Linked DNA regions of Homo sapiens: regions 2, 3 and 4 are each linked to region 1. Evidence: fine-mapped expression QTL. A gene starts in region 1. Each other region holds a variant in brackets. All regions are shown on one strand. Distances are from middle to middle.

Region 1 (6,328 bases):
ATGGTGCAGGAAGCCTGGAAACAGAGTGGGAAAAGCCCAGGTAGGGGGCAAAGAGAAGCTTAAGTTAGAATCTAGGCTTCAGCCTTTACTGTGGTACCCTGGGTATTATCAATCTCTCCTGAACCATACAATGATTTCCTGCCACATGATATCCTTGGCAAGTTTCAATGGGATCATGTGCTTAAAGTAATGAGCAAAGCATCTCACACACAGGAGATGCTTCACTGATAGTGGGTTCCCTCTCTTTCCCTTGCCCACAGAAACAGGCAAGGTTGTAAAGGCCAATTCTTTTTTCTTTTTTTTTTTTTTAATTGAGGCAGTCTTGCTCTGGAGTGCAGCGGCGCGATCTTGGCTTATTGCAACCTCCGCTTCCCAGGTTCAAGTGATTCTCCCACCTTGGCCTCCGGAGTAGCTGGGATTACAGGCGCACGTCACCACACCTGGCTAATTTTTGTATTTTTAGTAGAGACGACGGTTTCACCATGTTGGCCAGGCTGGTCTCAAACTCCTGACCTCAAGCGATCCACACATCTTGGCCTCCCAAAGTGCTGGGATTACAGGCGTGAGCCATTACTCCGGCTTAAGGCCAATTCTTTAACATGAAATTACTTGATTATAAGTGTTCCTAAACTCCAAATTCTCTAAACTGCTTTACAAAGGTGACAATACAAGTCCACTTTCAACTTATCCTGCAGACTGGCTGAAAGGTGTCTAAACCACTCTTCAAGGCCCAGAATTTACCACCCCACCCTCTCCTACTCCCATCTCTCTCCCTCCCCCACTTATCCCAGAGTAAATGGCCTAAGTCGGCTGTCAGGAAAAAACATCTCACACCCCAGTAGGGAGCCTTAGTCACATCTCTTTGAAGATGAAAAGCAACAAGGTGTGTTTATTTGTACTCTGGTGTACAAGGCCTCTTTTAGGCCTCATCTTCCCGAGCTGAGCTGTGCTGAGATGTGCACAGCTACTCAGCAAGTTAAAAACAATAAAACCCACCCCTCACACCGTTAAGCAGATCTTTCCAGGAGAAAAGGTCAATACTCACTCCTGGGAGTACACTCACTCCTGGGAAAATCAAGCCTTTTCACTGATACAGAATGTCAGGAAGTCTAGGCAAAGGTCAGTCCTGGAGGAGGTGAGAAGATGGACCATCATCCAGCATGGCTGCCTTTAGAAATGTCTCAAGCCATACGCACTTAAACCCACTGAGTCCACCCACATGCAGGAAAACTGGACATCAGATGACATGACTTGGGCTTAGTCTCTCTCGCAGGATACATTAAAAAATAGTAACGGTGAAAATCAATGCTTCACTTCCCTAACACAAATAAAAACAAAGGAAGAAAAAAATATGCAAGGTGTCTGAGAAGGTTCCTGAATAAAAAAGGCCTCCAAACTGCTCTTGGAATGTCAGTGGCTTTCCAGCCCCACAAAGACTCAGGACTCTAACTACGGTTCAACCTTGACCCTGGGATTCTTTCACAGACTATCAGATGGAGACAGAGATCCAAAGTCTTGGCTTTTACAATCTCTCTTGTTTTATCAACTTCCCAGAAGAGGATCCAAGCATAGGCCATGGGATGGAGGGGTAGGGTCTCTGGTCTGGCTATGAAACCCAAACTGAACCAAACAGGCTTTTCTTATGGGCTGGGAGCCCAGGAGCATCTAGTTGACATTAGGAAAAAGGACCAGCCCTGTTTCTGGCAACACTTGGGTCAAAGTGAAATCTATGCTAAAAAGATGATGCTTAATGTAACATGAAAGATGCACACACTCCAACCTGCCTAGATGTTTCTAAGGCAGCAACTCTAAAGGTAATTCAAAGCCCACAGATAATGGAAAACCCACCAGGGACAGTTGGACTATTCCTCCCCCTATCCGTCTGCTCCTTGCTATGACCATTTTATTTATTTTAGCCCTATCTCAGATGTACACACACACATTAAATAGCCACTGCTGACCAGAGAGGGACAAAATTAACTTTACAACTATTTTTACAGAGATGGAGACTCAACTAAAGCAACCCAGTACCAACTGGGAGATGCAATAAATAAGTTTCCATTTGGCTACAGTGGCTCTCCCAGGACACACACAAGAGCCAGCTTCCATACTGTCCTTCTCAGGTGCTATGAGGGGACACACCACAGCTACACAGATTGAATTTGTGAATCCAAACAGGTCTTCATATCTGTAGACGCCCTGAAAATCGACCTGCTCTAACAGCCTCCAAACAATTCACACCTGCTCCTGGCTGCCCAATGTCCTGTGAGAACTCTCTCCCCAGGTGGACTAATTTAAGGGCACTCTCACCCAGACCTGGTTAAAAATCCACAGCAGTCACCAGGAGGTCTAGTCCCTCCCTGGAAGCCCAGCAAACCCATAAGCATCTAAATGGGGTATCAGAGGAGTGGAGATGATGTCATGGGTCTGAGAGCAGGAAAGGCTGCCCAGTGGGCTGTGAGGATGCCCAGGACCAGGGACATCAAGGAAGAGAGGAGATATCCCTTTAACGCATTCATAACTCCAAGGCACAGCTAAGAATGAAGTGAGCCTCAACTTAGCAAACCCACAGGCCACCAAAGACACCTCGACAGCCAAGCTGCTAGAAGCACTTGGCAAAATAGGGCAGCTATTGGACATGTGGATGGCACAAACACCAGGCAGGCAAGATTCTGCTGAAGAAAGTTCACTGGGCCCTGTCACCCACATTCTAGGCATCAGATGCCCAGAAATAAACGTCAAGGGGCCAAGGGCGGGCCCAGTCCAGGAGGGACAGCTGACAGCTGTGGGCGGCGGGCAGGGGCAGAGGAGGAAGGGCTCCCAGGCTGGAATTCGGATCATGCCCACATCAGCAGAAAAGTTCCTGGGAACAGCACGCTGTCTGGAAGGGAAAGAGGCTTGCTGCGGTCCAGGCCCCGGGATGCACACGCGGTGGTGATGCCAGGTTCAAAGGGCCGCCGGATGAAGCCCCGTGTCCTCTCCCAGGGCCCCTCGCCGGTCAGGGCGCCCATCGCGGGGCAAGTAGGGTGGTCAGACGTCTTAAATAAAGCTTCGGTTCCCAGGATCAGTGGGGAAAAATGAATTCCCAGATCCGGCCTTGCTTCAACTCACTTTACCCAAACCAAACAGTCCCAGAGAGGAATGAAAGGAAGCAGCTTTGCTACTCCCTCCGCGGTGCAGGTGGGGAAACTGAGGCACGGAGTGCACGCCAGAGACTCGGGAAGAGGCCCAGAGGAGGCTAACGCAGCCGCGCGCGACCAGGCGTCTGGGAAGATGAGACCAGGGAAGAGTTCTCTCCTCTCCTCTCCTTTCCTTTCCCCGCCTCCGTTCCTCAACACACACAACACACACACAGCCACACTCGAGCTACGCCCAATCGGGGCAGCCGCCGGGCTCCCCAGACCCGGACTGCACACAGAGCCCCGCCCGCGCACACAGCACAACACGACCCGGCGCGCACGCCCACACAATAGGACGGCTCGCACCCCGCGGCGGCCCCTCGGCAGGGTCCGGGCCAGCCCGGCGCCGGGGTCCGCCCTCCGCGCTCACCCACGCCCGGAGAGCGGCCCGCGCCCGGGAGAGGACGCGATCGCACCCGGCCGCTGCGCCCCGCGCCCCGCGCCCCGCGCCCCGCGGGAAGTTCGCCGGCCGCCCCCCGACTCACCCGCGGCGCTGCTCAGCAGCAGGCACAGCGGCCCCAGCAGCCACATGGCGCGGCCGCCGCTCCCGCTGCCCGGCGTCGTTGCTGCCCCCGCGGCCTCGGCGCTGACCCCGCCCCTCGCCGCGCCGTCCCCGCCCTCCCGCCTGGCCCTCCTCCCTCCCGCCTTCCCCGGGCCCGGCCCCGGCCCGGCTCCGCTAAGTTTTGCAAGCGCCTGGGCTGCGCGTGGCCACCCGCATGTTACCCTGGGTGTCCTGACTCCGAGGGGCCGCCGAGCGCGGCGGAGGGTTCAGCCTTTCGGTCTCTCAGCCTTTCAGCCTCCCAGGTCTGGCCGCGAGGATCTTCTAACAGCCTGGGCTCTGTTCTCTGCTTCCTTTTGTCCCTCTCATTTCTGCCTTTGCTTCCACACCCAGCGAGATGCAGCGCCCAGACCAAAACTTGAGTTCTTTACTCAAACTACAAAGTGAGTTTACTACCGAGAGAGAAAAAGTTAAAATAAAGGGTCAAATCTTATGAGAAAATTGTAGTATATTTTTAGTAGCGAGTGTGGAATACCAGTGCTTCTCAAACTTTAATATGCATCCGGCACACTTGACGATCTTGTTAAAATACTGACTCTGGTTCAGTAGATCTGGCGTGGAGCCTGAGATTCTGCATTTTTAACAACATGGTGGCTGATTCCAAGGCTGATGATCCGGGAGCCACCGGTAAGAGCAGCTGACACCTACCATGCACACAGCGTGGACCACATGAGTTATTTTGTCTGCATAGTGTCCACCTTGACCTGTTGAACGTTTGGGACCCAATTTGGAAAAAATAAAATTAAAAAAAGGAAAAGGTCATGAAAGGCAGATACCCAAATGCAAAAAATATAGCTGCACCAATGCACTTGCTTCCAGAGGGCACTGGTGAAAAGCCCCAAAAGACTTAGATGGTGGAAGAAGGGGATGACACTTCTGTGCTCCACTCTCTCTGATCCCCCACCCAAAAAAAGCAAAAGACTAACGCAAATAATTGCCAAAAACTGGAAACAACTCAAGTGTCCATCAATTGATAAATGGATCAATAAATTAAAACTTTTGGGGGCAGTGGGACTGTTCTAATCTTGATTATAGAGGTAGTTACACAACTGTATACATTTGTCAAAACAATAGAACTGCATCCCTAAAATCCACCCCTCAAAAGGGTTGAGTTTATTTACACAAACTCCACCTGGCTGAAAGAAAGGGGAAGGTATGGGTACAGGGGCAGTTATAAAAGGGATGCCTGCGTCAGATTTTGGGATGCCCTGGAGACACCCTCAAGGGTGTTAAGATTCAATTACTTTACTCTGTAATTGCGTGCTGTAGTCTGGAAACATAAAGGCTAAAAAGGATCAGGTCAAAATTTAAAAATACCAATGATTGTTCAAGGTAATGAGAAAATGTGATGTGAGGGAGGAAAGGTTAAGTTCCATAGTTCATAGTACACATGGAAAATATAAATCAATTATCTAAATGATTTGGCATTCGGGGCTTTTATCCTGGGATTGATGAATATTATGGAGATCGTCCCATGGGCTTCAAAGAATTTTAAAGCCCTTAAAATTTTATGCAAAATGTCCTGTGCATGTGGGTATGTGCATTGTTCCGGGAAGCTTGTTGGGAAGAGGCCTCCTGCCTTTGATAATAATATCTGAGGAGGCAAATAAGCAAATAATTTCTCCTACAGCTGCTCATTTGCCTCCAAACATTAGGGATACGGAAAGATAATGCAACTGACCCACTGCTATAGTTCTTATTTCCTTAGGTTTCTTTGGACACATCAACTTCCTTACTTTGCAAGTTTGACTCTGACTCTCTCTCTCGTTCTCTCTCTCTCACATACACACAGGCACACACACTTTTAAATATAAATATATTAATGTCTTTGAAATCATTTGGACTAATGTAAAACCTTATTTAAGGTCAACTGTTGTATTTATTTATTTATTTATCTATTTATTTATTTATGAAACAGAGTCTCACTCTGTTGCCCAGGCTGGGTGCAGTGGCACATTTTGGCTCACTGCAACCTCCGCCTCCCGAGTTCCAGGGATTCTCCTGCCTCAGCCTCCCAAGTAGCTGGGACTACAAGCACCCGCCACCATGCCCAGCTAATTTTTGTATTTTTAGTAGAAACGGGGGTTTCACCATGTTGGCCAGGCTGGTCTCGATCTCCTGACCTCGTGATCCGCCCATCTCGGCCTCCCAAAGTGCTGGGATTACAGGTGTGAGCCACCGTGCCCGGCCCGACTGTTGTTTTTATACTTATACTAAATCACTGCCAACCTCCTCCTCACCGTATAAGCTGGGTAGGAGATGAAACTATTCTTTATACTTTATTACTCTCCTTTTTCCCAGTTCTTTAGAATTCCAAGCGCAAAACATTCAGTTTCCAGGAAATGTGAGAGGTTTCAGTGCTAATCGTTTAGGTCTATGGAGCCAATCAATCTTTTTTAAGATTGGTTTAATAAAAATAAAAAACAAAGTGCTTTATGTCTCTTATTTACCAAGAGACACTCTGACCATGCATGTGTGCTTCTGACACGGTTTCACATTGCTGAAGGAGGGAAGAAAGAATGTCGTCTCTCTGTGGGCCTCCATACAATGCTCTGTAATTTGCAAACATTTTCTCATTTACTCCCCACAG
Region 2 (6,328 bases), 170 kb before region 1:
CTGACCTCTATGGAAAAAGCAAAACCAAAGTCAGATTCCTGTCATCCAGAGAACAACTGTCACCTTGATCACACTCCAAAATCAAGATAAAAGCTTGGCTTTCCAAGGGTCACAATGGGCTTACAATAAATGAGCCCATGTAGGAAGAAATAAATATGTGAAGCACCTCTTCCACTTGACATTTGGGGCAAAGGAGACGGGCAGCCACTACAGGATGTCTCTCAGCCCCGATAGGCAGATTTCTCCCGGTTGGCACCGCACAGTGTTGCAGCTCGACCCATTTCACTTGAGTGAGCCCAAGGAGGGACAGCATGGACTGAGAGTTCTCTCTCAGGCTGTGTGAACTGATGTCACTCACAGCAGCAACAAATCTTCTAAAAGTCTTCTAAAAGTTCCGGTGTTGATCAGTGCAAAAAACCTACAGCCCATGCTACTGCATAAGCTAACCTTTGACCTATCGGCTCAGTCCAAAAGAGTCTGTGGCAAAGACTGTGGCTAATCAATCCCCAGTACCCATCCAATCTCCCTTTCTGCCTTTTCATAATATTATAGAAAGTCCTGACTATTTTGATCAATAGAGTATGGCAGAAGTTGGCTGGGAATGGTGGCTCACACCTGTAATCCCAGCACTTTGGGAGGCCGAGGCAGGTGGATCACCTGAGGTTAGGAGTTTGAGACCGGCCTGGCCAAAATGGCGAAACTCCGTCTCTACTAAAAATACAAAAATTAGCTGGGTGTGGTGGCGTGGGCCTGTAATCTCAGCTACTCAGGAGGTTGAGGCAGGAGAATCGCATGAACCTGGGAGGCAGGGGTTGCAATGGGCTGAGATCATGCTGCTGAACTCCAGCCTGGATGACAGAGCAAGACTCTGTCTCAAAAAAAAAAAAAAAAAAAGTGATGCTATGTGATTTCTACACCTAGGATATAAAAGGTGATATAAGTACCCACAATGAGAAAGAAAACATTGATCAGCCTCCCTTGCAGCTAGGTGTGGTCATGTGAATATGTCATGATCAGGCAACCACATCATCAGTGAAAGTGATGTGTATAACTTTCAGGTCATCTTCTTATATATCAAGCTATCTGTCCTGGTCTCCCCTTCTTATTTCCTTTTTCTTTCTTTTTTTTTTAATTTCAGTCTTCTCCTTCTGTACTTCCCCGCTTTCTGATGTCTCAGAAATAGTAACCACTGTAGTGGTCTTGGAATTCCTGAGGAGCGGAGAGCTCCCTGTTGGCCTAAACTGCTCATCTCTGGGGTATTCCAAGTGAGAGATCTTTTTCTCATCGAAGGCACTTATTAAGCCATAACCTGCATCTCATTTTAGCCACTTCACGATGGGATCTCTTTGTTATGGCAGCTTACCCTATGTTCTAACTAATACAGAATCCCTGGGCCACCTCAAATATTCCACATTAAGAACCTAATGTGAGAAAGAATCATAGAAGAAACCCTAGAAACTAGATCCCAAAAGTCCCTCAAAAGATGTGCACATATCTGTCTTTCTGAACCTTTTCCCTGTCTTCCCATTCCTTCCTATTTGTCAGAGGTATGCAATGTAGGTCTTCCATGACTCCATGTATGACTGACTGACACTGACCATTCTTGGTAAGAGCTTGCAATCCACTCAAATCAGTTCAAATGAAGGGAAAGGCATACTCTAGAAGACAGAGGCTTCACTGAAAAGGCAGAGATACTGGGCTTCCTGGGGATTTGGGAAAACATCTGAGGAAAAAAAGCAAATACTCTCTCCATCTCTCTTTTGGGGATGGCCACCTCTGGCCTCTTGGGCTGGCCTCTAGGTGGACCAGCACTCTCTACTATGAATTCTGCCTTTCCCAGCTGTAGCTTCTATGTGACTGTGTCCTATCCTACGGAATGATTTGCTTAGCATCCTAAGGCTGATTCAGCCCTGAGTGTCTTTGAAAGAGACATTCTGATTTGCTGCTGGCCAGCTGATAAACAGACTAGCCTAGGATCAATTGTCCACTTAAGGTTTGGTCAACAATGACTGAGATGGCAGGGAGGTGTCTTGGAGAGCAGAGGGCTGCCCCTTCCAAAGGTCATGAGTGCACGGTCTGGAAGTTGCTGAGGACAGGGCAACTAATTTAACATACATTAAGTCCCCTGGCACTCTGGATATATGGGGAATTCACGTTTACTTTTAAATAGAAGGCCTTATGCAACATTTCTCAAGTTAGTAGTGGTCAAAGAGATGGTTGTGTATTCCTGGTCTTTCTCTTCAATTAAAAAATAAGCTACTAGAATGAAGCAGCTCATAGGAATTCTCTTGACTCTCAGCACCTAGCAATGTGCTCTGCAAAAAGGAGGGTTTCAGAGTAGCAGAGGTATCCATGTTGGCTGGATTTTGAAAATCCAGGAATAATGTTGCAACAACAAGCCTGCATTAAAAAGGATGTGCTATGAGGATCCATTTCATAAAGTGTGGTTTGCACAAACTTATTCTCTCTCTATTTCTGCTGTAGAGGTACAAATAAATTTTCTTAAAGAAAAAAAGGAGGGTTTCAATAACAGCTGACCTACTGATGCAAATTTGAGCAGCAGACACATGATAAAGGGCACAAAATCTCAAGGAAGAGAACCAATGGGAGAAGATGGGTAAGTGTCATTTAGAGGCATTCCACAAAATGAACTAAAGATGAACCAGACTGGGCCGGGCGTGGTGGCTCACGCCTGTAACCCCAACACTTTGGGAGGCCGAGGCAGGTGGATCACGAGGTCAAGAGTCCAGGCCAGCCTGGCCAAGATGGCGAAACCCCATCTCTACTAAAAACATAAAAATTAGCCGGGTGTGGTGGCAGGCGCCTGTAATCCCCGCTACTCGGGAG[A/G]GTGAGGCAGAGAAGTGCTTGAACCCGGGAGGCGGAGGATGCAGTGAGCTGAGATCGCTCTACTGCACTCCAGCCTGGGCAACAGAGTGAGACTCCATCTCAGAGAAAGAAAAAAAAAAAAAAAAGATGAAACAGACTGATAACATGGTGGGTTTCCAGAGAGGAAAACAAGGTGGAAACAAGAAAGAGCTGCTTGGAGTACTTGGGGGATGTGACAAGAACTGACATATTTGCAACACAGAGCACATTTCCACCTTTCACTGGCCACAAAGCTATCAGGAAGTCAAACTGGGGCCAAAAAAAAAGACATAACTGACCTGATTGAATAACCCAGGTAAGTTTTTCAAGCCACTTGTTGGAAGCAGGAGGGGGAGGATATCCCTTCTATGGTCACTGAGCTTCCCAAACTCTTCTCACCCCTAGAAATTCACAGGTCTACGATTCCCCGATTCCCCAGGCTCATCCTGCCTGTAGGCTAGCAGGGCTCAGTAAGACACAAGGATAAGCAGAATTCTCACGGCATGCAGTGATAACGAGCTGCTCCTATGAATTTCTTTTCCAGGGTTGAACATCTCATTTCTCCTGGGTTTCTTCCTCTGTCTCCACCTTCTCATTGGATCCTGCAGGGAGGGGGCCCCCAGCAGTCAGCCTCAATGCACCCTAACAGTTTCACGTCTCCCACTCCCCACACATACACATGCACACTTTGCTCCAGCCATACAGAATCTCTGTCTTTGGCTATACTATTCCCTCTCTGGCTAGATGCCCAGCCCCACGTTTGTTTTCAGGTCCATTTTTATGTATTTGTAAAGACTGGGCAGCGATTTCATTTCTCTGAAGCCTTGCCATATCCCCCTAGGAAAAACTGTCACTCCTTGCCAGCCTCAAGCTCCCACGGCATGCTGCTCATTCCTCTATTACAGCATTTATCACACTTGAGGGTAATTATCTGCAGGCTATTATGTTTCTCCCTTGCAGGACTGTGAGCAACTTTGAGCTGATCTATAATAGTTTGTATTTCTTCCAGTACCTGGGTGAGACCGGGCAATTGCAGGCACTCTGCAAATGATGTGTGCATGAACGAATGTTAGAAAGACCCAAGAGAGTCAAAGGGTGTTGGGGGTTGGGGAGCTGAGAGCCACAGCAGTCAGTCCATGGAGGGATAAATGTCCCCTCTACAATCAAGCAGCACAACACAGCAGTCTTAGGGCTCCAGAAACTTGCAGAGCAAACTTGCAGAGAGACAGCAAGCCCTACCCCTGATCCCTGACTGCTCTGAAACTCAGTCCTTCCACCTCAGGAGGAATCACACTCTGCCAGGTGTCCAGGATGGACTCCGCCATTCACCGGGGAGAGAGAGCTAGGACAGAGGCAGGGACCAACTGGAGAGGGACAAGGAGGGGAAACCTGCACCTGAAAGAAATGGGGGAGACTAAAGAAACAGCCCTAAAGATTACCGCAGTAACAAAGTTATCAGGAAGCAACTACTGTCTTTGAGTACAGAATCATTCTGACTTGCTTCTAAATGAAAGACGTTTCAGAAATCTTCAAACTCCTGCTGCTGTGGTTAAAGAAAAGGAAGCTTTTGTCATGCAAACACTCTATTACTAAGAAGAAAACCCCACCTGTACACAAAGGCAGCAATCAACCTCTCCCAGCCTCCTTCAGTTTCTTCGAATGGAGTCAGCATTTTTGCCTCTCTCAGCCCAGCTGGGCTTTCAAACTCTAAATTAAAAGTGGAAAAAAGGCTTCCACATTCTTCCTGTTAAATGGACCTCCAGCAGCTTCATTCTATGAAAATCTACAGGAATTCCTTAAGGGTGATGATTCTTTCCTACGGACTCTCTAATGAAGCTCTTGACATCACTTGCAGCCACAAGGTTTGGCGTAAATACTGACCACCCTTCAAATTCCAGGTTGTGACATTTTTGATTGGATCCCCTAAACGCAGACTATTTTTTTTTAAATATAAAGCTTTTTCCATCCATATTTGGAAAACTAAACTAAAATTAGCACTTCTCCTATCACATGCCCTGCACGACTTCTGTAGAAATTATCTCTGCCTGCTTAGTCACTTGGTTCTATTTGGTGACAGAAAAAAGCAAAGATCTCTCTATTCCAAAAGTATAAGCTCTTTTACTCTCAATTACCCAGACTAGTGGGGGGCCTGGAGCAGCAAAGTGGAAAGCAAGCACAATCAGAAAATAATACGGCAGATTCTCTAGTTCCACAAAATTAGTATCCCCATGGTGATAACGCAGCTTGCTACTCTCATCCAGTTTGTCATCAAATCTTGGCGATTCTAGCCTGAAATACTTCCTGAAGCCATCCCCCATATGTTCCCACTGCCCCCACCTTCACGTGTCTTATCCGTGGCTTCCCACGGCCCATGGGAGAGAGCGCAACATCCTTCCCATGGTTTCCCAGGCCCCCAGTCCACGCAGGCCACCACGGACCACTCCAGCTTCCCTGCAGGCTGTTCTTCCCCCGTCCATGACAAAGATTCTCTCCTTGACCAAACTCCACTCCGGTTCTTCTGAGCTCTCTTCTCAAAGAAGCCCTAGCTTTGGGGCTTCTGCGTTCCTCTCTGCATTGTCTGATTCTAGCAAAAGCCCTATGAGTCAGTTTAGCAAAATCCTCCATCTGCCACATGCTCACCCTTGATATCTGATCCTGTTCCTCATCCTCCACCATCCTCCACCATCCTCCTGGCCTGCCTTCAGTGAGAATCCTGTTAGGTCCATTGAGTCAGAATCCCCCCTTACCCTGATGTTTCCTCTTAGTAATTTTCCACCCACTAACCCCACCCTACTGCTTGGCTAAAAATTCCCACTTTTCCTATTATATTTGGAATTGAACCCAGTTCTATACTGAGGTCTCTTTTCCCTGATGGCAACCATTTTTCTAGATAAAGTTTGTTTTTAGTGCTTTACCATCTAGCTCTGGCTTTTCTTTGACATCCACCCCAGGGCAGCCACGTGGATCTGCCAGTTCCTCAAATGCATCACGCTGTTTCTCACCTTGGGATCTGCTTACCTGCCATTCTCTCTGCCTGGAAGGATCCTTCTCCGCTGACCCTCCTCTCTCTTGTCCAGTAACTCTTCCCCATCCTTCTGGTTTCAACTTCAGCATCTTGTCTTGAGAAAGACTTAGCACCCCACTGACTGCCCTGCCATTCACTTCCAGAGTGTCCTGCGCCTGTCCTTGCAACACATTCCTCACGCTACTGACCAACCGAACACCTGCTCTTCCTATAGAATATGAGCTCTATTAGAGCAGAGACCACATTTGTCTGGTTCCCTATTACCGTTCTTCAATTCTAAGATACAATTTTTATTTTACATTTTAACATTCTGAAACTGGAATGCATCTTTTTTTTTTTTTTTTTTTTTTTTTTTTTGAGATGGAGTCTCGCTCTGTCACCCAGGCTGGAGTGCAATGGCGCGATCTCGGCTCACTGGAAGCTCTGCCTCCTGGGTTC
Region 3 (6,328 bases), 26 kb after region 1:
TCTTGTATCACTGCAACCACCGCCTCCCGGGTTCAAGCAATCATCCTGTCTCAGCCTCACGAGTAGCTGGGACTACAGGTGTGCACCACCATGCCCAGCTAATTTTTGTATTTTTAATAGAGAAGGGGTTTCACCATGTTGGCCAGGCTGGTCTTGAACTCCTGACCTCAAGTGATCCACTCGCCTCGGCCTCCCAAAGTGCTGGGATTACAGGCGTGAGCCACCATGGCTGACCCCCTGCAGAATTTCTTCTTCTTGAGTATGGGCAGGACTGTGAGTATGATGGATTTCATTCTCATGATTAGGTTACATTGGTCAACAAAGGTGAAAGGAATTTGCAGGTGTAATTAAATGTTTGAGACAAATTAATCAAAAGGGAGATTATCCTGAGTAGGTATGATCTAAATCAAGCAAACCCTTAAATAAAGAGATTTAAAGTAGGAAAGATTCTGCTGACCTTTGAGAGGCAAATTGCCAAGTTGTGAAGGCCACGTGGTAGGGAACAGCAGGTGGCCTCTAGAAACTGAGAATAGCCCATGCTGACAGCCAGTAAAAAATCAGGGGGCCGGGCTCGGTGGCTCATGCCTGTAATCGCAGCACTTTGGGAGGCCAAGGTGGGTAGATCACGAAGTCAGGAGATCAAGACCATCCTGGCTAACACGGTGAAAACCCGTCAGTACTAAAAATACAAAAAATTGGCCGGGCATTGTAGCACGTGCCTGTGGTCCCAACTACACGGGAGGCTGAGGCAGGAAAATTGCTTGAACCCAGGAGGCAGAGATTGCAGTGTGCCGAGATTGTGCCACTGTACTCCAGCCTGAGCGACAGAGCGAGACTCCGTCTCAAAAAAAACAAAAACAACAACAACAACAAAAAAAATCAGGGACCTCAGTCTTAAACCACAAGATGAATTCTGTCAATGAAATGCACTTAGGAGAGAAACCCAAGCCCAGGACCACATCATGATTTCAACCTGCTGATATCCTGGGCAGAAGACCCAGTTAACCTGTGCCTGAACTCCTAACCCACAGAAAATACAAGATAATACATGTATGTTATATCAAGTTGCTTAGTTTATGGTAGTTTTTTAAAAACAGCAACAGAAAACTCATACACATGTCCATGGAAAATAATCACTTGTATTGCAATCAGTTAGCTGCAACTTACAAAGTTGTAAAATTGTTCAAGGCAGTGAAAGGTGCAGCAATCCCACAGAATCAAACACCCTGGAAGGTTGCCCAAGACAGCACATAGATTTTCACTGAAGGTACTCAGTAATGCATTTGGTCCATTTCAAAGTCCTTCCATACAGTGAAAAATGTTTCATTTATTTAAGTGCTTGTTTCACAGACAATATTGCTTTATTTTTATTTAAATAAACTTTTTTCCCTGAATGGATTTTAGACTACACTTTGTTTTTTAAATATGTGAGGGGTTGGTGGGGGTTGGTTAGCTTCCAGAAGTTGCAGAGTGGAGACCCAAGAAGGCTTTAGAAACAACCAGGAGGTCTGAGCCTCACCGCACACCAGTCATGGCTGAGAAAATGGACCTGGGCAAAATGGGACTGAGAGGTTTGTGTTTTATGTGCAGTGAATGCTAAGGCTGATTTTATCCATTCATCTATTTATTCACTCAACAAACAAATCCAGTACCTACATGGGGAAGAATTATTTAGTAAAAATAATGATAGCTAACACATACAAGCTCTTACCATGCATTAGTCATTTTCCTAAGCACTTTATTCATAGTAACCTATATAATGTTCACAATAACCCAATGAGGTATGTACTATTATTATCCCCGTGTTATAGATGATGAAACAAGCAGAAAAAGGTTAAGTGACTTTCCCAAAGTCCCACAGCTGGTGAGTGTGAGAGTTGGGATTCACACTCATATAGTCTGGGTCCTAGCTCTCATCCCCCACATGGTACCATCTTTATAGCTAGGATCTCTTGAGCCTAGACACCAGCTGCATCTGCTGGTATTTCTAAAGTATGCCTTACTTTGCAATTTACTTCTGTTGCCCCAAAGCTTCAGTATTGTCCATAGTAATAGTCCATCTTCAGCCAGACTACAGGAAATTAAAAATTTTTTACATTTTCCTATAGCCACAGTGTGTGGGCATGCTGATTGTACACAAAGTAAAACTAAGAGTTATTTTACTATCCTTGCAAATCTGTCACCCATTTAAAAATGTGTCTTTGCTCAATTCTGAGCCTTATTTCTGCTTTCCTTTTGAAGAAGTATATTTTCTCCTCTGCGGGTTGTGTCTTAGAAACTCTACTGCTCATCTCCCTACTAGGATTCAACCCCAAGCATAAGCTCTGTGGTGGTGAATACCCTGCAGCTGCCTGCAAACAATAAGTAATACAAAGGATGACTGAGGGTTTCAAGTTTCCTGTTTACAGCCTCCA[C/A]CCAATGGAGATCTCTCTGGGAGAAATGTAAGGCTGGCAACAGATTAACAAGGGTTCAGTTATTTTGCAAAGGAGAACAATGGTTCTTCTGACCACTTTTGATTCATTCCATCCCTGGTTTCCATGGAGCATCATCGTAAGAGGATCTATGTGTGTGTCAATAGAGTGGCAGGAGAGAAGCAGCCCAGGGCAAACAAGGAAGCATCAGCCTGGTGAGTCTCCATTGGAAAGAGAACACCACCAGCTCTTGCGATCCGGTTCCTGTGTGGGCAGGCTGCTCTGCCAGGGGAAAGATGATGGGTAGAGTGGATAACACAGTCCCCACTCTGCAGTCTCATTCTTCCCTCCTCAGGAGAGCTCTCCCCTCAATTCTGTTCCCTTTTCAGGCTTATTCCTGTTTCCATCCTTCCCCTTTTATTGTGACTAGTTGGAAACATAATGTAGGGAATCATATGTGCCCGCTAAGCTGCCCCACAGGAGAAAACAGTTAAGGAAGAATTTTCTTTGATTGGCCCTGGAAGTCAGGGATACTATGCCAGACACCTGTTCCTTTTTGGCTGTCCAGAATCTAATCCCCCTTCTTTTGACAATTCCGCCATCCCTTCTTCTTTCTGCCAGGATGACTCACCCTGGCTCAGGACTAGGGCATGTGATTTAGGTTTAAGCCCATTGAGGTATTGCATTTCCTTGGACTCCAATGACTGGCTCATTGATAATTATGTGACTTAATTAGAGCCAATTAGAGACACAATGAGACTTTTGCAGGGAATTCTGGGAAGGAGACTCTCACTAGATCCTTGCTTGACTTGAGAGGTATGAGGTTGGAACGGCTGTAGCCATCTCCATCTATTGAGGGAACACGGGTTTGAGAACACAGTCAAGTCAGGACGAGAACAAGAGACGCTGGATCTTGAGGACAGTGCTTGAGCCCTCGAATCAATCAATGTCTAAAGTAAGTCCTGATTTCAGACATTCAGTACATGATTCAATAAAATTTCTTTGAGCACTATCTTAGGTTGGATTTTCTCTTTCTCACAACCAAAAAAGTTGTCCTTTTCCCACTAGGGAAAGTTGAGGGGAAGCTCCAAGAACAAGAGCAGCCAGGAGAGGGGCAGTTCACTGCCGTCAGCCAGGAAACTGATTCTCAACTGAGGCTATTGTCCCTTTACGTTTATCATGAAAAGGCAGAACTTGCAACATATGCTTTTAGAGCCATTAGCTTTTCCATTTCTGTCCATCAAAAACCTGACAGTTTTATGGGTGGTGGGGGGAATCTGTCCAGTTGTTTATTCACATGTTAGTCTCCCTTAGAGTGAACACAGACATGGGTTGATTCCTCAATAAAAGTCATCCATATCTGCTTTTGGTCACCATGCCTTTTAAATGCTTATGTTTGCACAATTACACCATCTTTTTAGCTAATGGAGGGTCGATGAAGACATTTGGCCAGAGGACCCTGAAACACCTGAATCCCACCTTTGGCTGGCTAGCCCCATTTCTCAGCAGTGCCTTCACAGGAGCGGTAAGTAGCACTTTATTTTTAGAGAGAGCTTTGGTGAAAAACCATAATGCAAACTTGAGCAAGAGTGGACCTCATGCTTCTTGCCTGTCATGGTTCAAGCCCAATTCTCAGGTATTACCTGTTCGACTTTCTAGTTTCATGTTCTCTGCCTCTGGCTGATGTGTATTGGCTCAGGTTTTTTGTGGTTTGGTTTTGATTCTTGGTTTTCAACTATATCAGAGAAAAAAGCGAAAGTATTTTGTCACCTTTGCCTAGAATATTTGCCGAATGGTGGCTGCCCAAGTCCTTTCAAATTGAGTGAAGAAATCTGAGCCTGCTTCCAGGTGGGAGGAGGACTGTGTTTCCAAGGAGAGAAAAAGTGAAGGAGTGGGGAGAAGGGAAGAGAATGAACTAGAGCTACCCTGCTATTCTGGCCACGAGGATAGAGAGAAAAAGAGAGGCTATGCCTATGTTACGTGTGCTGTATATAACCTTATTTCTGTTGTAAGTTCCACCTCTAGAAAATACGGGCCACTAATTATCGCAGAATCTAACCAATCATATCAATACTCTCAGAGCAGAACAAGGCAGGAATTAAAAGGATAAGCAACAGAATGTTTGAAAGCTGGTTCTTAATAGTCAACATTGTAGTATTAATAAGGATAATGCCAGCTGCAACAGCAAATCATCTCCAAAATTTCAGCAGCCTATCCCAATAAAAGTTTATTTCCTGTTTGTATGACAATCCAAAGTGGGTATTTCTTCGAGTAGGGCTGCTTTCCTCCACTCAATGATTTAAGAACCAATGTTTCTTCAATCTTAAGGCTCCACCTTACACTGGTGATTTTCAATTTTAACTCAATATTGTAATTACCTGAGGAGCTTTATGCTAATACATGAGCCCCATCCCCAAGATATTCTGATTTTATTGGTTTTAGTTGCAGCTTGGGCATCAACAAGTTTAAAACACCTCCAGGGGTGTCTAAAGTATAGCCAGTGTTACACAAGGGTGTTGCCCTAGGGCAGTGGTTCCCAACGTGTGGTGCCCAGATTGGTATATCCACAACATCTGGGAACTTGTAAGACTTGCAAATTATCAAGTCCCTGATCTACTGAAGAAAAACTCTGGGGATAGAGCCCCCAGCAATCTGTGTTTTAACAGCCTTCTAGTTGATTCTGAGGCATACTCAAGTTTTGTTTTGTTTTCGAGATAGGATCTTGCTCTGTCACCCAGGCTGGAGCGCAGTGGTGCAATCATGGCTCACTGCAGCCCCAACCTCAACCTCCCAGACTCAAGTGATCCTCTTGCCTCAGCCTCCTGAGTAGCTGGGACCACAGGTGCACATCACCATGCCTGGCTAATTTTTCTTTCTTTCTTTCTTTCTTTCTTTTTTTTTTTTTGGTAGACATGAGGGTCTCACTATGTTGCCCAGGCTAGTCTTAAATTCCTGGCCTCCCAGAGTGCTGAGATTACAGGTGTGAGCTACCACATCTAGTTGCAAAGTTCTCTGCAACCAGGTGGAAGAGAAAAGAGGAAGCGTGAAGGAGCATATCTCTTTCTTAAATACCTTGGACTAGAAATGACCACATGGGGCCAGCTACATTCAGAGGACTATGAAATGTGACCCTGGCTGGGCAGCCTGTTTCTGCAATAATCATACACTCTTGAGTTGCCTGCACTGACTCTGAATTCCACACTAAATCAGGATTGAAAGAAAAGGAAAAACAATTCTAAATTCTAGGTATAACATAGATGGTCAGGGCTCTCAGGCCCTAGGAGTTCAAGATGAAACAAAAACCTATAAAAAGACATACAAATTACTTGTGTTGATACAGGATAGATGAGGTTCATTCAGACAGAGAAACTGACACATAAAAATTGCACAAATTTATAACCAATATGCCATGCCTTATAATGTTATTTTTTCATCAAAGTGATATAACCCCTGGAGTCCTCATTCTAACTCTCCTAGATTCACCACCTCCCCACTTCCTTCCCTGCAATAGCTCAACAGCAACTCTAAGGCAAAGATAGAAGATTGTACATCTGTAGGGACATGGCCATCTCAGAAGTCAGTCCATAAGAAATTTGCCTACTTGAGACCCCCTGCTGTGTGATGATAGAGGGTACAGAGACCTTAAAATTGAGCAGTTTGAGGCCGGGTGAGGTGGCTTATGCCTGTAATCCCAGCACTTTGGGAGGCTGAGGCGGGCAGATCACGAGGTCAAGAGATCAAGACCATCCTGGCCAACATAGTGAAACCCCGTCTCTACTGAAAATATAAAAATAAGCTGGGTGTGGTGGTGTGTGCCTGTAGTCTCAGCTACTCAGGAGGCTGAGGCAGGAGAATTTCTTGAACCTAGGAGGCGGAGGTTGCAGTGAGCCGAGCTTGTGCCACCGCACTCTAGCCTG
Region 4 (6,328 bases), 120 kb before region 1:
TGCCACCACGTGGGGAAGTATTCTGTGGACATTTTGGTAAACATGCTCTTACAGCATGGTCTCAAAAACTAGTGTGTGCAAATGGATTGCCCCAGGACCTTGTTAAAATGCAGTGGGTCTGGGGTGGAGCCTGGGATCCTGCATTCCTAACAAGCTCCCAGGCGATGCTGCTGGCTCCAGGTACCACACTTCCAATAGCAAAGGGCCACTGTCTTGTTCACTGTGTATCTCCAATGCCCAGAGAAGTGCCAGGCACACAGACTACTCAATAATTACTGACTGAATTAATAGGCAGAAATCCGAGCATGCAATTTTACTTAAATGCACCCTTAAAATATATGCTATCCTGAAACCTGTTTTTGCTACATAATATGTTGTGACATCTTTTCTTGTCAATAACTACTGGTACACATCATCATTTTTAATGGCTAAGGGTAACTTTACTGTGTCTATGTATCCATAAATCCCGTTACTGATGGACATTTGGGGTGTTTTCAATAAACAATGCACAGCCAGATACATATATTATTTTTCCCACTTGTATATTATCTCGTGAAAGTATAACTGCTAGGTCAAAGGACATGCATGCTTTACATTTTGGTATCCTTTTGACTGTTGACTGCCTCCTCCCTGAGGAACTGGTATTGTCTTCTGGCCACAGACAGCTATGAGAAAAGCCTCCAGCCTAGGATTGTCTGCGATGGGCTGATTCTCTCAAGTTGGCAATGACGCTCCTAGAAGCACAAAGGCTGAGATCATCCCATGGTTCCTCTGCATTTTTGTTAAGTTGCTCCTTAACTGCTGCTGCGCTCTATTATTCTCCATCCATCTCTGTCTCTTTTCATTTTAACATCTGTGTATTTCATTATTCTGCAAAGTAGGGGACACTCCTGTCTGGTCAAGGAAACCATGACTCTTCTTTTTATCATTCTAAATTTGCACCGGGTACAGGGCATCGATCTTTGCTGGAATTGGTTTCTCTGGGTTGCAGGAATCATGGCAAAATGCAGCATCCTCCTTCTGTGAGATGCTCCTTGAGTTGACTTTCCTGGGCTACATGGTCTCCTTTGACTAAGGACCTTGACAAAGGGCAAGGGCAGGCTCTCGCTCTTAGGACTGTCCTACTTGCCAGTATTTCTCCAGAATTCCCCATCCTCTGGGGCAGTGTTGCAGAGAACAAGTCAGTGATCCACCTGCAGCAGGATCCCCAGGGACGCTTGTGAATATGCAGATTCCTGAGTCTCTCCCCTAGGGGAATCTGCATTTTTACTAAGCACACTAAGGATCTCAATGGGCACTAAAATGTGAACATCCTGCTCTGACCGATTCTACCACCTTCTTATACCCACAGAGCAAATGGCCTCATGATTCCTTTCTTCCTGATGTTATTGCCGCTCCAAGAATCATGGCTACACAGCCAATGAGGGACCTACTCTGGCCATGACTCCTTCAAGCCAAGTCTAATACACCCCAGATAGAGGAGTTACCATGAGATAAATATCCACAAGGAAACAACTGGCCTCTTTATGATCTTTCCCCATTTCAACACTGCTCTCTTCTTCCCCATTTGTGTGCAAGATACAAATTCTGCTTCACACACAAAAGCTGTGGGCTCATATACAAACGGTTTTTGTTCAAGCAAAAAGGCCCTTTTTAGAGCTTTGAAACTTACTCAGTTCTGTCTACTTTGTAAGGATTTACATTTACCTGTGCCCAACAGAAAATAGGATTAAAGAGGCAATAAAGAATCTGCCCCTGTTTGGCCAATATCAAAATATTCCTAAGCATTCTATTACCTGTCTGGTGCTGAGTCAGTTGTGTGGGGATTCAAAAGCGAAGCTGACAGGCTCTCTCTGTGATAGTGGAAGACAGAGACAGGTAAAGGAGCCTCTGCATGTAATGCAAATAGTGCCCTGATTGGGGAGCTATAGGATGCTTAATCTCAAACTAGGAACGAGGCTGGCATCAGAACAGGCTTCTCAGGGGAAGGTCGGTTTCAGCTGAGGTCGGCCACGGTCTAGGCGGAAAAGCAATGTAATATTTACAGCATGAGGCCTTACTCATTCCGTTTTTCATTCCACTAATATTAATTCACAAACTCTGTGTCGCACCTGCAAAGAATGAGAATACATAGAAGACACCTAGGCCACATTTGAAATTTTAGTGTTTGTGGAATTGTGGAATCAAAGATGTTCCAAGCCGCCTGTGTAAAGGCCTGGAGGCAGAACAATGTGGTAAAGGAGCAACTGAAAGGAGGTCAGTATGAACAAGCTTCTCATATACGCAAAAGTACCTGGCATCTTTTCATTAATTAAAAAAAAAAAAGCCCTATTTCTCATAAAAAAATGTGCTATGAACCAGTTACAATTCAGCTCACTGTAAAGATGTGAGAATGACAAGGGCTAATCAAAAGTATATGTTAGAAAAGAATCAAAGTATAAAATTCACATAATTTGAATCAACATGCACAGCTCCCCAAAGTGAAAACCGACATGTGGCCATTGCTAGCTAAAAACTGCAAAAAGCGGTCGATCTGATGTTGCTGCTATTAATATATTCAGTCCTCTAGCTCATTTGGTAAAAGGTCAAACTG[T/C]GGTTCCTTTGAAAATGACTTCATGGTTGGGGACAAGAAAGCAAAGAAGGCCTTGTAAAAATAACTGACTTCTAAAAAGTAATCTGCCTGGATTCTCCAGGAAATCTGGGGGCTAAACGGGGGAGCTCCTTTATTGTGGTCCCAAGGCAGATGACAAACAGCCCAGAAAGCAAACTCACTCCTGGAATTCTAGCCTTTGCAAAATTTATGGCTTGAGCAAAAAGTCCTTTGCTTGTTGCAACAGTTCAGCTCCACATGACTACTGGAGTAGACTCCAAGTTTTATTGATCAGATATTGCAATGTATTATTTCTTCCTAAAATAACATATTGGCTGTTTCAGACGTACACACTGGGGAGTGAAAGAGCAACAGACCATACGCTAACTGGAATATAAATACAGAAAGAAGGCATCCAGTTGAAACAGCTTTGCCACAAGATTCTCTCGTAGAAAATTCTTTCCAAAACTCTTCTCTTTTATGCTGAGAAGAGGAGGTCTACAGCCTAGGGTTAAGAGGTCAGAAGGACTCAGAGATAAGAAGCATCTAGGTTTCTGGGCTGGGCGCGGTGGCTCACGCCTGTAATCCCAGCACTTGGGGAGGCTGAGGTGGGTGGATCACGAGATCAGGAGATCGAGACCATCCTGGCTAACACGGTGAAACCCCATCTCTACTAAAAATACAAAAAATTAGCCAGGTGTGGTGGCACATGCCTGTAGTCCCAGCTACTCGGGAGGTTGAGGCAGGAGAATCGCTTGAACCCAAGAGGCGGTGATTGCAGTGAGCTGAGATTGCGCCACTGCACTCCAGCCTGGGTGACAGAGTGAGACTCTGTCAAAAAGAAAAGAAAAGAAGCATCCAGGTTTCCACCTCAGTTCCACCACGTAATCACTGAGATCTTGGATGAATCACTTAACTTCCCTCAGCCTCAGCGTCCCCATCTGTAAAAGGAAGATAAAGATGGTATAGAACTCCCAAGCTGTTGTGAAAATAAAATGAGATTTTGCATGTAGAGAATACAGCAAAATGCTTGCTATCTGGTAGAGATTCAGTAATGCCCTCCCTTCCCTAACATAGTTCATGGTTCTACAAATTGCTTTACACATAGACGGCTAGTCCTGAGAAAAATGAGGTGGAAATCAATGTAATGTTTAGACAGTCTAAGGCTTTGCTCTTTCAGTTATTCATTCCACCAACATTAATTCTCAAACTCACTTTATGCCACACACAGAACCAAGTGTGGGGGCTGCAAGAATGATTCCTGCTAGCAAGAGGCCCTTAGCTAAAAAAAACACCTGGCCAAGAGAAAGAGAACGAAAAAGAGACAATAAGCAGATGATTGCAATGAGATGTGGTAAGCACAACAGAAGCTGTATCAACATTTGCCTTTCAACAGTTAATTATGGCTAGCTGTGGTGGCTCTCACATGTAATCTCAGCACTTTGGGAGGCCAAGACGAGTGGATTGCTTGAACTCAGAGTTCAAGACCAGCCTGAGCAACATGGTGAAACCTTATCTCTACAAAAAAAATACAAAAAAAAATTTAGCCAGGCACACGCCTGTAGTCCTAGCTATTCTGGAGGCTGGGGTGGGAGGATCGCTTCAGCCCAGGAGGCAGAGGCTGCAGTGAGCTGAGATTACACCAATGCACTCTAGCGTGGGTGACAGAGCAAGATCCTGTCTCAAAAAAAAGTTAATTACAGCAGTTAAGCAGTTAGATGTCAGCCTGCCTGGGTTTAAATGTTGTGTCTACCACTTATTGGCCATATGATTTATGGTAAGTTGGTTACCCACTCTGTGCCTCAATTTCCTTATCAGGAAATAGAGAGATGAACACTACCAACCTTGCTCAGTTGTTGAGGGGATTAAATAAGACAATGTAATAATTACTTGGCACTTTTTCTGGAACAAAGTATTAGCTATGATAGTTAATACTATATTTGCTATCGTTTTATACATTACATCTTATTATTTGATATTACACTATAAAATATAGTATTATAAAATATAAAATGTAGTGTTATGTAGTATTGAGTGTTACAGATTATCCAGCATTATTATACAGTATTAGCTATTATTACTATTCCCATTTATTATTATTATCATTTCAGACACTTTCTGCCCAGCAGTGGATGCTTAATTAATACGTGGGGAATGGCCAGAATGCAAAAGGAACTCAGAAAGAGTGGGACCCACTCAGCCTGGGGAAGCCAAGGAGTACTTCATAAACCTGTGCTATTTTAGTTGGGTATGAAAGATTATTAGGAGTGTGTTAGTGAAAAAAAAGAGGGAAGGACACTCCAGACAAGAGGAATGGCATGAACTGAAGCTCAGAGTTGAAACAGGTTATGGCTTGTACAGAAATCTGGGAGAAGTTAGGACACCTGGGACATGGGCTATGCGGCAGGAGATGCGTCTGGGAGCGAGGCAGACAGGAGTCTGGAATTATCCTGGAAGCCAACAGACATCTTTCTAAAGGAAAGTGATGAGTCAGATTTGTTTTTTCTGAAGAAACTTTTTATATGAACTCACAAAGATATCATGAGGCTATTGAAAGTCAAGGAAATCTCCTCATCCCCCCAACAGCCCTGAGGGAGCAGAAGAGAGACAAGCCCATAATATTCTTCGTACTTTTAGAAAGAAAGACACTATAAACCATAACAGAATTCAAAGTGGCTATCATCGACCTTTAAAGTACTTTTATTACGAAGAATGACGAGGAAAAAAAAGGCAAAATTTCCACCAAGCAAGTTTGGGATTAGGAAATTATAATGTAAAGGGGTTTTTAAAGGTTATTTATTTTGGCTATTTGTAATGCACACACATATGTGGATAAAGAGGTTTTTGTGTGCATATACATTGGAATGAAAATTCTAGAGAATTTATAAGCAGGAAACTAAGATATTCCCAACCGCTGCTTCTACAGACAAATCTTGAGGGGTGAGGAAAGATCTAAAAAGATAATAAATAAATGTGGGTTAGGTAACTGAGCCTCTGGAGGCTTTTCACTACTTGGTGGAAAAACTTCCTGACAGTGGATCCAAGTCCCTGGGATTAAGACCAGATGTGAGCACAGAGATTCAGGGAGAACAGAATAGTTTCCACCTAAAAAAAGAGTCTTTCAGTAAAGGTATCATCCAACTGCATGAAAGGTGATATCTAAGGGATGACTCCTAACAAGCAGTAGAAAAAAGTAAGAAAAAAAAAAAAAAGAAAATGAGTGAAGAGTGTAAGAATCACAGACAGTTTTCAAGTCTGAATGAACTCAGAGAGGACTCCATTCTAGACCCTTTTCCATCTCACTTAGGCAAGGAGGGTTATCTTTGCCAAAAGAAGAAGGGTTTACTTTTCAGAGCCTCCACCCTCTCCCATCCCCTTGGCTCCTAGCAAACCTTGAGGTTTTCCTTCTTCAAACATCCTCGCTTCCGTGGCATATTCTTTGCCTTCGGACTCCAAAGAGGAAGCTCATTTCTGATGAGCTCTCTAGAGGCATCTCTGAAAGGTTTTCTTGGCCCTCCCCACATGATCCACATAAACAGCAGAACCCTAAAACTCAGGTTTTGTCTCAAAACACCTGCAAAGGGCAGATATAAAGGCCTACAATGTGAAGATAAGCCACTGTAACACCCACGGGAACTGAAGACTTCCATTCAGATACATCAGAGGTGAGTGTGTCAACAGGGCAGAGAGGGAGGGAGGCTCCTTCAGGCTGTTCCCACAGCCTGCACAAGAAAACAT

Direction of the effects. Alleles are on the strand shown, and positions count from the first base shown. SD is a standard deviation of normalised expression in the study named. Not every link is listed here.
As copies of A replace C in region 3, the expression in substantia nigra of the gene that starts at base 3,747 in region 1 goes up (small effect, 0.32 SD a copy in GTEx).

The links.
Region 2: its variant is fine-mapped to the expression of LDLRAD3 in whole blood (INTERVAL, PIP 0.95).
Region 3: its variant is fine-mapped to the expression of LDLRAD3 in substantia nigra (GTEx, PIP above 0.99). The same link has a PIP of 0.9 or more in prefrontal cortex.
Region 4: its variant is fine-mapped to the expression of LDLRAD3 in adrenal gland (GTEx, PIP 0.95).

Annotation. Positions count from the first base shown.
Region 1 is chr11:35,941,481-35,947,808 of GRCh38, reverse strand. LDLRAD3 (low density lipoprotein receptor class A domain containing 3) reads right to left here and starts at 3,747. Exons shown (of 6, transcript NM_174902.4): 1 at 3,665-3,747. The coding sequence starts at 3,710. RefSeq lists a silencer at 3,397-3,836.
Region 2 is chr11:36,108,239-36,114,566 of GRCh38, reverse strand. All of the region lies in intron 4 of LDLRAD3 (low density lipoprotein receptor class A domain containing 3), which reads right to left. Among named protein-coding and RNA genes, the nearest start is that of MIR3973, 100 kb to the right of the region's middle. RefSeq lists enhancers at 2,751-3,274, 4,373-4,552, 4,325-4,848, 5,373-5,896, 5,897-6,328. The variant A/G (reference allele first, on the strand shown) is at 2,848.
Region 3 is chr11:35,915,619-35,921,946 of GRCh38, reverse strand. No RefSeq gene overlaps it. Among named protein-coding and RNA genes, the nearest start is that of LDLRAD3, 25 kb to the left of the region's middle. The variant C/A (reference allele first, on the strand shown) is at 2,415.
Region 4 is chr11:36,065,635-36,071,962 of GRCh38, reverse strand. The region is part of intron 2 of LDLRAD3 (low density lipoprotein receptor class A domain containing 3); the gene reads right to left. LOC101928510 (a long non-coding RNA gene) reads left to right here. Exons shown (of 2, transcript NR_135064.1): 2 at 4,702-6,328. Among named protein-coding and RNA genes, the nearest start is that of MIR3973, 59 kb to the right of the region's middle. The variant T/C (reference allele first, on the strand shown) is at 2,594.